Linked DNA regions of Homo sapiens: region 1 is linked to region 2. The links come from fine-mapping of genetic effects on gene expression. A gene starts in region 2. The other region holds a variant in brackets. All regions are shown on one strand. Distances are from middle to middle.

Evidence for each region. PIP is the estimated chance that this variant, and not a neighbour inherited with it, causes the effect.
Region 1: its variant is the best candidate, but not a certain one, in a credible set for the expression of BANK1 in subcutaneous fat (TwinsUK, PIP 0.53).

The regions. Positions count from the first base shown.
Region 1 is chr4:101,845,802-101,851,193 of GRCh38, forward strand. All of the region lies in intron 2 of BANK1 (B cell scaffold protein with ankyrin repeats 1), which reads left to right. Among named protein-coding and RNA genes, the nearest start is that of BANK1, 58 kb to the left of the region's middle. The variant A/G (reference allele first, on the strand shown) is at 2,850.
Region 2 is chr4:101,787,598-101,792,989 of GRCh38, forward strand. It overlaps BANK1 (B cell scaffold protein with ankyrin repeats 1), which reads left to right and starts at 3,133. Exons shown (of 17, transcript NM_017935.5): 1 at 3,133-3,353. The coding sequence starts at 3,284. RefSeq lists a silencer at 3,220-3,409.

The DNA of each region.
Region 1 (5,392 bases), 58 kb after region 2:
TATGGTAAGAATTAATGCCTTAGACATTTTTACTAGAGATTTGGGCCATAGGGTTTTTGTTTTTGTTTTTGTTTTTATTATACTTTAAGTTTTAAGGTACAGGTGCACAACGTGCAGGTTTGTTACATATGTATACATGTGCCATGTTGGTGTGCTGCACCCATTAACTCGTCATTTACCATTAGGTATACCTCCTAATGCTATCCCTCCCCCCTTCCCCCACCCCACAACAGGCCCCAGTGTATGATGTTCCCTTTCCTGTGTCCATGTGTTCCTATTGTTCAATTCCCACCTATGAGTGAGAACATGTGGTGTTTGGCACACGTATGTTTATTGCCGCACTGTTCACAATAGCAAAGACTGGGAACCAACCCAAATGTCCAACAATGATAGACTGGATTAAGAAAATGTGGCACATATATACCATGGAATACTATGCAGCCATACAAAATGATGAGTTCATGTCCTTTGTAGGGACATGGATGAAGCTGGAAACCATCATTCTCAGCAAACTATTGCAAGGATATGTTGTTTTTAACAGCTCTGAAAATTTTGTGTTTTTGATTCCATCAGATAATTCCTGTGATAAATTGACTGCTGTATGCATGGATAAAACTGTGGGTTGGGAAACAGTATAGGGTAGTGTATTAGTCTGTTTTCACACTGCTATAAAGAACACTCAAGACTGGGTAATTTTTAAGACTGGGTAATTTTTAAGAAGACTGGGTAATTTTTAAGACTGGGTAATTTAAATAACTCACAGTTCTGCATGGCCAAGAAGGCCTCAGGAAACTTAAAATCATGGTGGAAGGTGAAGGGGAAGCAAGGAATATCTTACATGGCAGCAGGAGATAGAGAGGGCAGGGGAAGTGCTACAGTTTTAAACAAGCAGATCTTGTGAGAACTGACTCACTATCATGAGAACAGCATGGGGGAAACCACCCCCGTGATCTAGTCACCTCCTACCAGATTCCTCCCTTAACACCTGGGGATTACAATTCGAGATGAGATTTGTGTAGGAACACAGAGCCAAACCATATCTAGTAGTGATCAAGGTTCTCTGAAGTCTGACTAGCTAGGTATTCTCCTGACTTCAGCAATAACTAGCTGTGTGGCCTTGAAGAGTTCATTTATTGCTCAGAACCTTATTTTCCTTATTAAAAATGGCAACTTCCATCCCTTTTCCTCACCCTCCCTGTCAGCATCTGCTGCGCTCCAGATTTTACTCATATATCGTTTGCCTCCCCTCATTAGATTGCAAGTCGTATGAAGGAAGGCTTACCACCATGTCCTCTGCATCCTGAATAGCACCTGGTACATAGTTGGCTGGTAAATATTTGTTCAAAGAAATCCATATAACAAGGATAATATTATTGCCTGCCTCTTGGGTTGGCAGAGTGTGTGTGTGTGTGTGTGTGTGTGTGTGTGTGTGTGTATGTATATAGTGAGTTAATATATGCAAGGCACTAAGAATAGTACTGGCACATAGTCAATGTTCAGTAGTTGTTAGTTGTTATTCATATTCATGAGAAGTTTGGGGTATTTATTTTTGTATTTTGTCTCTTTTTAGTTTTTTTTACTATTATTATTTTTAATTTTTCCATAAGTTATTGGGGTGCAGGTGGTATTTGGTTACATGTGTAAGTTCTTTAGTGGTGATCTGTAAGATTTTGGTGCACCCATCACCCAAGCAATATACACTGCACCATATTTGTAGTCTTCTATCCCTCACTCCCACAGGTCCCTCAAATCCATTGCATCATTCTTATGCCTTTGTCTCCTCGCAGCTTAGCTCCCAGATATCATTGAGAACATACGATGTTTGGTTTTCCACTCCTGAGTTACTTCACTTAGAATAATAGTCTCCAATCTCATCCAGGTCACTGCAAATGCTGTTAATTCATTCCTTTTTATGTCTGCGTAGTATTCCATCATACACACACACACACACACACACACACACACACACACACATATGTCTCACACAGTTTCTTTATCCACTCGTTGATTGATGGGCATTTGGGTTGGTTCCACGATTTTGCCGGATTCGCTCCCTCCCCTGAGTTCTGGCCAGGAAGCTTCTTGCCCCGTTCAAATTGTTACAAAGTTCAGCTAGAGAATTCCTTCTCCCTGTGGAGTTTTACCCCCTGCTCCTCTGGCCATCTTCCTGATGGATCCCTTTGGCGCCAGCGAGGAATGGCTGCCTGGGAACCCAGTGAGCTCCCAGGGCCTTTCTGCTACCTCCTCTACCTCGGTGTTTTGCTCTGCTCTCCAAATTGACTCAGTCAGGGAAAGTTAGACACTTCTCCCGCAAACAGATCTTCAGCTTCTCCAGTGGGGCTGTGTGTTCGGGAGAGGAGGGTCTCTCTTTCCCACTTCCGCAGTTGGGGCACTCATAGTTTTGGGGGGGGTCTCCTGGGTCCTGTAGGAGCAGTCCGCTTCCTCCAGAGGGTCTGTGGGTCCTCTCGGGATTGCTGGTTTGTTCTTGTAGTTAATCTGGAGCTAAAATTCACAATGCGAGCCCCCGCTTGCTGCTCTGTCTGGAGTTGCACTCTAGTCCTGCCTCCTCCTGTCCGCCATGATCTCCGGTATTCATTTTAGGTCAAACCCATATTTTAATTTTTTTTCTTTTAGGCAATAAATTAATTATGGCTTCCATTTCACTTGCTAGCTAGAAGTCATCACTAAAAACACTCCAGTTTCTACACAGTAACTTAAGGTTTACCTTGCTACACTGGGAAAGGAAAGATTAGGCACTAGATCCATTTGCTAAGATAATACAGTCATGCACTTGAGATATAAGAGAAATACAATCCAGTGTCAAGGGCATGCAGTTTAAAGTGAAGAGT[A/G]ATATTATTTTGTTAATTGCTTCATGCTTTATTATTTAATTTAGCTATTCAATCGTGATAGTAAAAACAAAACAGAACAAAACAATTCTATTGTTACTTAAACATAGGTAATTTTAATATACAGCCTCTTTTTCATACTTTTTGCAATGGCAAGGGTCTCTAACTTTTAGGCATTAGAGATGGATGTCCCTTCATTCTCTTCCTAGTCTCTCATTCCAGGATCTTGTTTATGCCCTTCTAGCATCCTCCCACCTCTCCCTTTCAGCGATGCAATCACTCCCCAAGTTCTAGCTGCATCATAGGCTTATCCCCTTATCTGCTGAGCCACGGAGGCAACTGGGGCTGGACATACATGCCTTGCTCTTACTTCCCTGCACTTAGCCCCCTTGTACTTTACTTAAGCCTATCACACTAGGTTCCACAGTTACATGTAAAAACCTGTAGTGTACTGAAGGCAATACCAGAAATTGAAACATTAAAGTTGTCATTACTTCCTGGAGTCTCATGGCAATTGCAGGTAGGCCTTTCTCAAAGAGAGGTTTGGTACTTTTTTACTCTTAATCCGCTTCTTCCAACCTCATCTCCTTGAAGTATGTTCAGTTGATATACAATAATGCATTTATTTTACCAATAGTTATTGAGTGCTGGTCACTTCCTGGATCTCATGGAGACTGGAGAAAGGAGTTATGAGAATATAGGTCCAATGGCTAGAATGTTCTCTCTCTTCTCTTCACCATTTTAAGTTTCAGACCCACTTCTGAGGAGGCCAACCTGAATGCCCAATACATGTCTTTAGCTTAACAATGAACATACAGTGGTGGTGGCGTTTTTAGTTAGGACATGGAGATACACACGCACACACACACATATACACACACACACAAATATATAAGCATATATATGTATACACACACTCATATTCTTAGGACATGGAAATATAGGTAATTTGTATGTATTAACACATACTATATAAAAAAATTTATGTGTGTGTATATATACACAATAAAATTTGTGTGTGTGTATATATATGATTATGTCTATCTAATTACCTTCTAAACTATTTAAAGCTTATATAAAAAGGAAAATTAACTCAAATTGTTATCTAAACATCAGTGAAGTTTCATTTTCTACCCAAGGGCCGGAAAAACTTCGTCATTTATTTACTTTGGAAAATTTGGGATTTTTCTATTGAATTTACTACTTATGGCTCTGTTACTTTATTCCTAGGTTAATTCTATCTGCTTTTTAGTTTTCTATGTCTGTTTGATACAAAATACTATATTCTCTGCACATTTTAGAAAAGTGTTAGAAGAGGAAAGAAAGATTCTATTTGGCTTCACATTTTATTGAGGAGGAACAGTTTCTCACTCACAGAATATAAGAGCTGTCTACAAATAGTTTTAAATGTTTGACAGAAATTCAGTAATCCATCACTGGATAGGGATTATATTTTTAAGGGTGTGTTCAGAATGAAATACAATGTCAGTAAAAGTCTTGATAAACTGTAAAAACTCATTAGAGTATAAAATATTTTTATTATTGCACTTAATATGAGCATACCTTGATTTGTTCTGCTTTGAATTTGTGTTTGGGTGTCTTTTTGTTTGTTTGTTTGTTTGGTTGGTTGGTTTGTTTTTTTGAGAGGGAGTCTTGCTTTGTCACCCAGGCTGGAGTACAGTGGTGTGATCTAGGCTCACTGCAACCTCTGCTTCCTGGGCCCAAGCAATTCTCCTGTCTCAGCCTCCCAAGTAGCTGGGATTACAGGCGTGTGCCATGACACCCAACTAATTTTTTTTTTTTTTTGTATTTTTTGGTAGGGACGGGGTTTCACCATGTTGGCCAGGCTGGTCTCGAACTCTTGACCTCAAGTGATCTGCCTGCCCCAGCCTCCCAAAGTGCTGGTATTACAGGCATAAGCCACCGTGCCCGGCCTGTGCTTTGCTTTTTTGTGCTACACAGACACTGCATTTTTTACAAATTGAAGGTTTGTGGCAACCTTTTGTTGAGCAAGTCTATTGGCACCATTCTTCCAACAGTATGCACTTGCCTCATGTTTCTGTGTCACATTTTGGTGATTCTTGCACTATTTCAAACTTTTTTCATTATCATTATGTCTGTTGTGGTGATCTGTGACAAATGATCTTTGGTGTTACCATTGTGATTGTTTTGGGTGCCATGGACTGCACCCATACAAGACAGTGAATTTAAGCAATAGACGTTTTGTGTATTCTGACTGCTTCACTGACTGGGTATTCCCCCATCTCTCTCCCTCTGCTTGGGCCTCCCTATTCCCTGAGACAAAACACTATTGAAATTAGGCCAATGAATAAGCCTACAATGGCCTCCAAGTGTTCAAGTGAAAGAAAGAGTCACACATCTCTCGCTTAAAATAAAAAGCTAAAAATAATTAAGCTTAGTGAGAAAGGCATGTTAAAAGCCAATATAGGTAGAAAGCTAGGATTCTTTCTTCAAACAATTAGCCAAGTTGTGAGTGCAAAGGAAAAGTTCTTGAAGAAAATTAAAAGTGCTACTCCAGTGAACAC
Region 2 (5,392 bases):
TTCAGACATCCCTGGTATTTGGTTTAGTTTTGAGGGAGTAAATAAGAAGTGTAGTTAACACCCTGGGGGAATAATATAATTCAATGTCTAAAAATCCAGACATGATTGTCAAGAGGAATATTCCCCAATTAACAAATAGCCATGAAGAAGCAACTATTTCACTTTTACAATAGATTACTGCTTTAGAAAAGAACCAGTTTTGTTCTTTAAACATATCCAGAATCTAAAGGCAGAAATAAAGCCATTAGCATGCACAACAGCATCTGGTCTGCAAAGGACACAAGAAATCAGCCATGGCAACTGCAGGGCAACACCAAACAGCTTTAGCTGTCCATTTATTGGAACACAGGGCCAGTGTGAGGCTTTTATAATCTTCACAGAGTGGGGTAATAATATTGAGGCTGTCAATATGCCGCTAAAAAAAATAATGCAAGGGAAGAAGTCAATGGATCCAAGAGTTTGATATATTGAGAAATGAGAAACCTACTGTGACTAGCATTTTCTTGTCATTCTGTAACAGAGGTAAAATCAGAAACCTGCGATTACACACTGCTGGTGGTATTTTGCCTGAAAAAGCCTCTCGGTGTGAGAATTGCTAAGTGCCTCTTTCCTGAGAACAAGTATGAACCAAGAGATAACCCAACATTCCAGATGGTATCATCTCCTTAAGGGAGAAAGCAGGGGAAAAATAAAGTCAACTGTGATTAAAGACGTACTTGACACAGAAACAAGACCAAAATGAGTAAAAAATCTTTTAAAATATATTTTTATAAATGCATCAGCAAAGTATGAAAACATGTAGACTTAAGTTATCACGTGTATGTGTGTGTGTGCGCGTGTGTGAACATCTATATATCCTCAACCAAATAGCACCAAAATTGTAATAAATTATAAGTACAGTTCATACCTATTTTTAAGGATATTAGTATTTAATTGTATGGGCTTATAGTTCTGTGGAAAAGTGGATAGGGAAACAAAAAACGTTTTCAACACATATATGTATAACCTATCCTATTATGTTCATGTAATCTTTAGCAAGGGCCTTATGTGACCTTAAAAGGAAGCGGTGGGGAGGGGGGCAGTTATAATTAAGAGGGCAGGCTATGAAATCAGATCTAGGATTGAATTCCAGCTCTGCCACTTACAGTTTTCAACGCCCAGATTCTTCATTTGTAAAATATGGTTAAACCTTCCTTGTTTTGAGAACCAAATGACATGAATATTGTGAAACTCTTACATAGAACATAGGATATAGAATACTTAAAAAAAGAGTAGTTGTTGACTGCAAACAGTAAAACAAAAGAATAAATAAGTCAGTCAATGGGGTAGTCAATGGCTATTTTCTTATTCAAAAGAAAAGTGAAGCTAGAATAATTTTAATGGGAGATTTTAAAGATTTTCTAACACATAATCTTATTTTTTTTAAAAAAAAAACAGCCCACAATTTTCAGCAGTTTTTACTTTCTTTTTTCTATTTACTAGCATCATTTGACATAAGTAGTGGAAATGAGCTTCTGAAAATATACTTAATTTTCATATTATAAATCTTATTTTCTATAGTTTTATTAGGAGACAGTGTTATAACATTTTATATCTGGCAGAAACTCGAATACAGTAATTTTAATTTATTCATTAATAATGAATAAATTAGATGAGATACGCAAGGCTCAGAAATATTAAGAATTGCTCCAAACACCCAGATATTGTGGAGCAGAGTCAGGATGGCAGCTGCAACCTTCTGACTTCCAATCCAGGGCTCTTCATACAAGAAGGCTGTCCTGTATATGTGACAGATACAAGTTCCTATCTGAACACTGTCTTTATTAACAAGTTTTCGTGTGCATAAATGGGTGCCTTTGAAGATCTGGATACTTAATTGGGGAGCATCATCTGGAGTGTTCATGTTGGCTAAAGTAGCTCTTGTCAGGAATACGTATACCAGCAGATGCATCAGTTAGAATATTCTTTTCTCCAATGGGTTTAAGACATACTTTCCTAAGAATTGAGTTTCTGAAACACTGAACAACACCCAAACCCTGCAATCCAAATTTGTTTTTGCCTATTACACTGAAGTCTCTCTGTTAACAGGCATATATAGAAGACAACCATTTTTTTCAATATAATATTTCATAAGTTAGATGAAATCTTTTGTTCCATTATATAAAGTTCAGAAAATCAACATAAAATTAATAATGATGTTAAAGAAACTACTGGAAACCAGATAAATACAATACAATCTATAATTGTTTTCAAGTTTTTTGGACATTTCGCATACTTCTCCAAGTTTTCTACATTATGTTATAAAGTTCTAATAAGTTCATTTATGTGAAAAAATTAACTTTTTTTGATACTTGATATTTATATTATTACTAAAAAGCACTTCATCCGAGAGAAAGTTTCAAAGAAAGCCTTCCTTTTATAGGAAGAGGAGAGGAACATTTAAACTATGTATTATTACCAAATTGATATTCAAAAAATATATTCAACTTCAAAAGGCAAATGACTAGTTTAGACATGCTTGAGAGAGAGACATTCACTTTAAGGTTCTGGGACAACTCCTTTGATATATCTCCATCTTAAAAACAAGCAAACAAACTCTTGTTTGGAGAGGGTATTTAGAGCCATAAATAATTTTTTACTGGGTCTATTTTTGAGTTGGAGCAGGAGTAAGAAATACATTTTATATGGAATTTTAAATCACTTTTCAATTTATGAACCTAGCCTAGAAAGTCTGTGTAAAATGAAATATTTTAAAAGTTACAGTATTATCTGTATCTTCATTTCTATATGTATGTATCTATCATCTGTGTACCTACTCATCTATCTATCTAATTATTCTTTCTTTCCAGCAAATGTTCACTTCTGGTTTCCCTACGTCTGCCTGGAAGTGGGGGCAGTATGGCAGTATGGAAGACCTAGAAAGGGACAAGGAGAGCTACAATAACAGCGGTCTAAATATATCCTAGGATGAAAAGGTGAGGAAGGAAACAGGCGCAGAAGTGTTATAAGAAACCAAAGCGGCCTTTTGAGAAGGGATGTAAGAGCAGGCCCCTGAGCAGTTTCACTTCCTCTGGGCGCCCAGCAGAGCGGAGCCCTGGCCTTGCGGGCATGAGCCCCGGGGCTGCGTTTCCTGAGACCTGGCCGCAGCCTCCGCGGGTGGCAAGCGGGCTGGGGAGAGCCGAGGGCCAAAGGAAGAGAAAATCGCGGGGAGTCTCTGGCCGGGAGAGTCCAGGTAGCGCTCGGCGGGCAGCAGTGCGCAGGCCCCTCGGCTTCAACCGCCACAATGCTGCCAGCAGCGCCAGGCAAGGGGCTTGGGAGCCCGGACCCCGCCCCCTGCGGCCCAGCGCCCCCAGGTGGGTAGTCGCGCATTCGGAGGGGCTTGACGCCGAGGCCGGGCTACGGGGCTCTGCGGAGACCACGGGCCATCGTTAGACAACTGCACTCGGGCACTGAGGCCAGGGCGTCCCTGAGACAGGGCTTCTCCTTTTTATCCTGCCGCCAGGCAGCCCAGAGGGTTCTTCTGTCCCTGACTTCTCTGAGGGGCATCTGGACGCCACGAGGAGGGAGCGCGCTGGGAGTTCTGGCCAGCGGGCTACCCTCAGTGTCTGCAACTTCTGAGGAGCTGGAACTTTCCCCAGCACCCGGGTCAGGGTCCTGTAGTTTCTAAAATCACTTTGCAACCTGTTTTAAAGCAATGCGCGTTTAAAATTATACGTAATTATTTTCAACAGTCGGTAAGCACAGAAAAACCGCTCATGTGTAGCGTCACGCATTTACCTGCCCGGCCTGACAAATCCCAGCCTGGTGAATTGGTAGCCCTGCTTCTTGGCAGGTGGCTTTGCAGAGAAACTCTACCAACACCACCTCCCTACTCCACTGGCTTTACTAACTTGGTCAAAGGAAAACGGTCAACTTGGTTGAATGCAGAAGTAGATTTATATTTTCAAATGGACGTTAAGGCAGTTTTATTTAGTTCTTTTTGAAGCATTTCAAATGCATTTGCAAATTACTCAGTGATATAAAAATGTTTTTTAAATTAAAAAACTTCACTTAGGTATTAATATTACTGGAGTGTTCGTGGTGAGAAATGCAACAAGAAAGTATATTCTGAGTGAAAGTTTCTTAATTTGCTGAATAGAAATAAATTTCTCATACCTTTCTAGAATTTTTTAGGTAATGTAATTTTGGTTGTAGCTATTTCTGTTGGCTAGTGCATTTTTACATAAATAAGCTTTAGGGATTGCTTTCAGTTAAATAAGAAGTATATTTGTGTCAATGAAAAGTGACAAGAAAGGACTTAGAGCCCATAACTTAATATTATTAATATTTTAACTATTGCATATTGACATTCTTGAAAACTGTGGCTCTGATGGTCTTCAGCAGAGCAGACTTTGCTAGCATCTATAAATAAACCAACCATGTCTTTCAAACTTTGAGCAGGTTACCTCTTTTGTAATTTCAGTTTAACAATTTTGTTAGAGAATGGGGTACAGTTTGTTTCAAACTTCTAGATTAAACAGTTTAGGCAGAAAATGCCTTTTATTTCACTTGATACTAAGCAATACTTTGAGGCACTTGCTATTGTGAATAATGCAAGAGTAATGTGAATCAATATTTATAGCATTCCAATTATTCTTGTTCCTCCCATGCATTCCGCTCCCCCCCCGCCCCGCCCCTCCCAACTCCTTGGGTCCTTCTCCATGCAGTATTTATCACTTGCTTCAGTTACTTCCTTTTCTGGCCAACATAATGAAACTTTTCTAAAAACGAATTGTCTTTTGACATTATCCCATGCCCATATTCTTGATATGAGTAATCTTCTAGCTTTTATAAATCCAGTGGTTTGTGTGTGTGTGTGTGTGTGTGTGTGTGTTTTTTTTTTTTTAATGAAGAGCTCCCTCTCTCTCCAACAACTATCTTAATATGGCACATTGGGGGTCAATTGGTCCAACTGCCTCATTTAGAGAAGAGAGCACTGAGATCCAGAGTGTGAGTTGCTCATGGTTTCATAACTAGTAATTATTTGAAGGTCACCCATTCATTAACTTAACAAACTTTTATTCCCTGCCAAGAGTCATGTAGTAGTAATAAGAATGTAAAATGGTAAACACAGTTTCATGCCCAGGAAGGTATATTTCTAGCAGGAGATAGAATGTACTGCTAGACAACATTAGTGTATACTGCCATCAGAGATTTATTAACTGTTGAGTATCGACTTGTTCTTTAATGGAAGCAAGAAAAATAGAATACCCAGTTCTCTAAAACAAGGTAAAAATGATGCACAATGGGTGAAAGTTCTAGTTAGAATGTATTTTCTGGTTTGTATTTAACTATATATTACTATCAATGTCCAAAAGAGAGATTCTTCCTGTTGTATTCCAAAACTAATGAT